2 linked regions of the Homo sapiens genome follow. The protein of the gene in region 1 purifies or fractionates together with the protein of each later gene. This does not show direct contact. Each region holds a gene or a part of one and is shown in the gene's direction. Other genes may lie near its edges.

Evidence for each region. Proteins that work in one complex are often made in the same cells at the same time.
Region 2: the proteins of NUDT2 (region 1) and DPH5 fractionate together in Homo sapiens (co-fractionation; one large-scale study listed by BioGRID). This does not show direct contact.

The regions. Positions count from the first base shown.
Region 1 is NC_000009.12:34,332,569-34,336,068, forward strand, and holds part of NUDT2 (bis(5'-nucleosyl)-tetraphosphatase [asymmetrical]), read left to right. Parts: exon of another isoform or gene 1-1,103; intron 1,104-3,500. UniProt on the Homo sapiens protein: Catalyzes the asymmetric hydrolysis of diadenosine 5',5'''-P1,P4-tetraphosphate (Ap4A) to yield AMP and ATP. Exhibits decapping activity towards FAD-capped RNAs and dpCoA-capped RNAs in vitro.
Region 2 is NC_000001.11:100,991,954-100,994,784, reverse strand, and holds part of DPH5 (diphthine methyl ester synthase), read left to right. Parts: intron 1-2,044; coding exon 2,045-2,148; intron 2,149-2,831. UniProt on the Homo sapiens protein: S-adenosyl-L-methionine-dependent methyltransferase that catalyzes four methylations of the modified target histidine residue in translation elongation factor 2 (EF-2), to form an intermediate called diphthine methyl ester.

The DNA.
Region 1 (3,500 bases):
ATAGGCTGCTTAACAAATCCCCTTCACTAAGAATGATTTTTGTCCCAACCTTGTCTGACTTTGGCCTTATCCTAGAAGCCAATATTTATGCCATTACAGGTAAAATCTCCTGTTTCCTCCCTCAGCCAATAGCAAAAATAACAAAATGACTCAGCAGCTTCGTCTCTGCAAGAATGGAGTGGCAGATGTCCAGGGAAAGGTGCATTTGAGGGAATATTTTCTTTGTCTCAATTTATTCATGGTAGTTGGGGCTTTTCTTTTGCATTTCTTTCTTTTTTCTTCTCTTCCATTTGTTATTGTTCTTACAAGAAAGAGCTTTACTCATGGGTGGGTGCCTCATTTCTGTCCACTCCAAAAGGGAAGAAAGAAACTGGCAAATTGGAAAAAAGATGATGATGATGTGGGAGGTGAGGGAGTAGTCACATAGAATTGCAGTCACATAGAATTGCTTGTGGGCAGGCAAACAGTTGGCTTTCCTCCTCATCTGGAGGAGGGTCTGGGCAAATTTTCTGGACACTAGTGCCCTAAGTTAAGTGGAACATGTGGTTTTAGGTTCCTACTTCCCAGAAAAGAGCAGAGGAGGCATAGAAACCCTTTTGAGATGGGTGCTATTAGGAGCCTGAGGCTACATTTTACCCCTCCTTCAGAGTCTTCTTCGGATACCAGGATTTAACATCTACGGCCCTCTCCCCCCAACTAAAACCTTTTTGGTGGAAATGATCCCAGCTAGACATCTTAACCTCCAAAGGAATATAGATTAAAGACTGGGAATTTGGGGCCAGGCACAGTAGATTGCACCTGTAATCCCAGCACTTTGGGAGGCCAAAGTGGGAAGGTCACTTAAGGCCAGGAGTTCAAGACTAGCTTGGTCAGCATAGCAAGACCCCATCTCTACAAAAAAAGTGTTTTTTAAATTTAGCCAGATGTGATGGCTCCTGCTTGTAGTCCTAGCTACCCAGGAGGCTAAGACAGGAAAATTCCTTGAGCCCAGAAGGGATGCAGTGAGCTCTTGAGGCTGCAGTGAGCTGTGATCATACCATTGCCCTCCAGTCTGGATGACACAGAGAGACATTGTCAAAAAAAAAAAAAAAAAAAAAAAAAAAAGGACTGGGAATTTTGAAACTGGAAATGATTTTATAAATCTTGTCTGTCCTCTCTCAGGGCCATTTGTGTCCTAAGCCCTACTCTTTCATGGTGAACAGAGCTATGAAAGGGACAAAAATTATAGACTTTGGAGTTAGACTTACTTGGATTGAAATCCCATCCTTTACAGGCCAGCTATGCCCTTATGCAAGTATTTTAACCTTTTGAAATAATATCAGTGTCCTTGTAAATTAGATATAATAATGCTTCTCTTGAAAGGTTGTTTTGAGCTTTAGAAACAATAGTTGTCAAAAGTCTTGCACAGTATAGCTGGCACAGTATATATAGATGCTTAATTGACAACGCGGCATGAAACACTGTTTCTGCTAAAGGGATATTAGAATATGGAGAACAGGTCAGAGGGAAAATTTGGAGAGCTCTTCCTGTACCTAAAGTTACATTTCTGAGGGCTTTTTACAGTTACTCTGATTAATTTGATGAAAATATTGAAACAAACAGCATAGCCATGTATTTGTAAATTCTTTTTTTGGTACCTAGGTCCCGAACCTCCTAGGCTCTGAGGGAATTGTATTTATGGAGAAAGCCGAGAATATTTTTCCTTAGCTTCTAGAACCTTCTAATGACATTGAAGGTTTTTTTGTTCAGGTTTTTTCTAACCACCTCAGGCACTCTGCCACTTTTTTGAAGTGTGAATTGCCTGCTGTCAGCCTGGAGTTCTCACCTCCGCAATCCTGGCTGCAGGCATATTTGCATATTGGATGCTGTGTTCCTTAACCCCCTGAGGTTTGAATCCACTTGGAGTCTGTGTGTGAAAGCTGGCTACTTTCAAACCCATGAACAGTTTCAGCTTTGTGGTCTCCAGAAAAACAGAAAACCCCCAACAATAGTTCCATTCACTTTTATGTAAATGGCACTCTTCAGGAAAACACTGGGCTATTTCCCAGGGCCCCAGAACATACTCAAACATTTGTTTGAGTGGGAGGTGGGGAGAGAGTTCTTTTGAGTCAATGAACATCTGTTCAGAACTGCTGTGCTGGGTCCCAAGAAAACAGAGCTTATAATCTGTCTCTTCCCTGCCAGAGGTACCAGCAGAGATTTACTATACTAGGTATATGTGCTTGTGGTGGCATTGTACTGTGTCAGTTTAGCTAAGCTGGATTCCCAGTATCCTTCCTATCTGCTTCCAGGTGAGGGTTGTCCACAAGAAAATTTCGTGAGAGATTTGGAAAGCTGAATTGAAGTAGCAGCCAGTACACTGTGAAGGACAGAGCAGGGTCTGTACGCTGTGAAGGACAGAGCAGGGTACCAGGCATAGTGGCAGTACCTGTACTTTCTCTCTGATCTGGCTCACCTTGTTGGTGAAGGTCATCACACAGCCCCCAGCACCCCTAGCTCCTACTGAATTTCCTCCTTCAGCTCCTCTGAGTCCTGGGCCATGTGTGCAGTCAGCTCTGTAGCAGAGGGCTCCGGCTTCTCCAGATCACCTGAGTCACTGAGCTTGGGACCAGTGAAAGGAAGTTGTGGGTTTCAGTTTGTCCTCATGAGTTCCAGTTGTCCTTGTAGATCCCAGTTTGTTCTCAGAGGTTCCAGTTTGTCTTTGTTCTCTTCCACCTCACATCCAGTTTTCTTCCCAACTGCTGGCCTCACAGACTTCGGGCCCAACACCAGGTGCAGAGGCAGCAGAGTTGCATGGATTTATCCACCAACTTCCAAAGATACACAGTGTCTACTCCTTATAATAAATCTTTAGTTTTCTGTCACTCATAGCGTTTGCTTCCCTGATTGAACTTTAAATTTGTTCAAGCCGTGTTAAGGATGCAGAGCATGGAAGTGATTAGAAGCCAGAAAGCTTCACAGAGGAGGTGACATCTGAGCTGCTTCTGACGAGTAGGAGGTTGTGTGTATAGAGTGGGTAGGAGGAATTCTAGAGAATAGCTGGCTCAAGCCAAGCAATTGAAAGAGCAGTGAGGAGTTCTGTATTTCTAGAAGAACTGTTCTTTCCATGGGTCCAGAATATAGATGGAGAATGAGCATCTGATCCTAGCTCTTCTGGCGCCATTGAGATTAACTGTTAGCTGATGTGGTTCTTAGATGTGGTCATCCCTAATACACTGGCATCCACTGAAATACATTCTTGCTAGGGTACACCCTTGTCACTACCCTAAGATTCCTCCCCCACCCCACCGCTGCTTTCCTCTCCCCAGTGGTTCCATGTGGCTAACCCAGGCTTGTCTTTCTTGGCTCCCCATGCAGGCATCTTTGCTTGTCCATGTTGTGTTGATGGTGGCAGTGGTATGGAGTTCCTGTCTTAGGCAGGGCACTGTGCCCTCTAGTCTTGGATCCCTAAGCTTATTTAGGGGTTCTAACATTGATTCCATGGGACCTTCTAGTCTTGG
Region 2 (2,831 bases), on another chromosome or scaffold:
GAGGCTGAGGCAGGTGGATTGTTTGAGGCCAGGAGTTCAAAACCAGCCTGGCCAACATGGTGAAACCACGTCTCTACTAAAAATGGAAAAATTAGCTGGGTGTGGTGGCACGTGCCTTTAATCTCAGCTACTTGGGAGGTTGAGGCACGAGAATCGCTTGAATCTGGGAGGCAGAGGTTGCAGTGAGCTGAGATCACGCCACTGCACTCCAGCCTGGGTAACAGAGTGAGAAAAAAAAAAAAAAGGCATGGGTTTGAGTCCTGAGTCTGCCTCTAGTTGAGTGCTCTTGGGCAAGTTACTTCCATCTCTGAGCCTTATTTTCTTCAGATGTATAATGATAGTACTAATCCTTTTTTACTTAGAGAGGCAGTGTCTAATACAGTACCCCCTACCCACTTGTGACTAAGGAGCATTTGAAATGTGGCTAATGTGACTGAGGAACTGAATTTTTCATTTAATTTTAATTAATTAAAAAATGATACTCTGTTATTGGAAAACTTTTAAGTATGTTTGGAACAGCTTTAGTATATAAATCAACTGTTAAAACCATAAATTTTATGAAAGTTAAATACAGATCAACTATTTCCAATGAAAATTTAATATCCAAATTAAGGTGTGCTGTAAGAACATATCAGATTTCAAAGACTTAATATAAAAACAATCTCTTTAATAATTTTTATATGAGTAGGTGTTAAATTACAACATTTTGGATTAATTAAAATATTAAAATTTTTGCCTTTTTTGGCTGGGCGTGGTGGCTCATGCCTGTAATCCCAGTACTTTGGGAGGCCGAGGCAGGTGGATCACGAGGTCAGCAGTTCGAGACCAGCCTGGCCAAGATGGTGAAACCCCGTCTGTACTAAAAATACAAAAAAAATTAGCCAGGCATGGTGGCAGGCACCTGTAATCCCAGCTACTCGGGAGGCTGAGGCAGAGAATTGCTTGAACCCAGGAGGCAGAGGTTGCAGTGAACCAATATCACGCCACTGTACTGCAGCCTGGGCAACAGAGTGAGACTGTCTTAAAAAAAAAAATTGCCTTTTTACAAACTTTTTTGTTAATATGGCTACTAGAAAACTTGATTCTATATATGGCTTCATTTATATTTCTATTGGATAGCACTGACAGAATTTTTTTGAGAGTCAGTAAAATAATCTATTTGAACTGTGTTGTAAGCCACAATAGCTATATATATATATATATATATATATATATATATATATATTTATATTTTCGACAGAGTCTTGCTCTGTCGCCCAGGCTGGAGTGCAGTGGTGTCATCTCAGCTCGCTGCAACCTCCGTCTCCCGGGTTCAATTGATTCTCCTGTCTCAGTCTTCTGAGTAGCTGGGATTACAGGCGTGCGCCACCAAGCCACGCTAATTTTTTTTATTTTTAGTAGAGACGGAGTTTCACCATGTTGGTCAGGCTGGTCTCAAACTCCTGACTTTGTGATCCACCCGCCTCTGCCTCCCAAAGTGCTGGGATTACAGGCATGAGCCACCACGCCTGGCCTGCAATGGCTATATTTTTGTTAATATGATAGTTCGGCAAGCCTGATAGGCTTTTGAGGCATACAGAAATAAACGTATGCCATCACCTGAGATTTTTAAGCATCCAAGATGCTTTAGTTTACTTTTCTTAGAGGAAACAGTGAAAAGAATATGTGGTTTAAAAATGGTCATAAAAAGGACACTAAATAACCTGATTAAGCTAGAGTATAGACCAAATTGCCACTTACTTTGAATTGTTTTTACCAAAGGTATCACTTTGAATAAAGATAACTTTCATTTAGACATCTATCTTTATGTGTTCCTGCCATCATTTCAGTGAGATCAGAGGAAAGTTAAATTAGAACAATGAAAAAGCTTAAGAAATGAACAATCATCATGCTTTTGTGTATGCTTAAAGTGAGTACATGTAAAAAAACATCAAACAGAATGTAGACTGTGGTACTTGAGTATACCTGGGAGAGCTAATTGCATTAATAACATATTATGTAGTTTCATGGCTAAGAACAGTGGCATCTAGTTTTCTGCCTATAGGGGAAGGAAGATCTATGAACCTCCACGGTATATGAGTGTAAACCAAGCAGCCCAGCAGCTTCTGGAGATTGTTCAAAATCAAAGAATACGAGGAGAAGAACCAGGTACTCAAGACACTAGAAGGGCTCTCATATTATTCCTCTGTTACTACATTTAGATGTGTATATGACTTAATATCTCATACCACTATGGAAGCAAGAGTCAGTATTTTTGTATTGTACTATTTCTTGTCATTTTTGTCCAACTTTAACTTAAATCCCATAGGCTTCAAGTTGTAGTGAAAGAAAAAAAAATTGGCATTCTTTTATAGTATAATTAACACCATTCCAGAAAGTGAGGATTTTTCACAAATTAAACATAAGTCACATTTGATATAAATATATTACTGTATAAATATTTTTGTAAAATATATCTATTATGTTATCCCTAATCAATGGTGAGATCTATCCTGCAAAAATATACTTATCGTTCTTTTATTCTCCCTCCTTTCATTCTTAATATTGAGACTAGGAATAGTTTTCTTCAGGGTAAATATAAGAGAAAATTTGTTCTTATATTCCTAATATGTAGACACAGTGTGTGGTATATAATAGAAATGTTTATTGTCAATAAATCTTTATGGGAGGTTCTTTTTTTTTTTTTTGAGAGAGGGTCTCACTTTGTCACGCAGGCTGGAGTGCAGAGGCACTATCTCAGCTCATTGCAGCCTCCACCTCCTGGGCTCAAGTGATCCTCCCACCTTAGCTGAACTACAAGTGCATGCCACCATGCCCAGCTAATTTCTTTG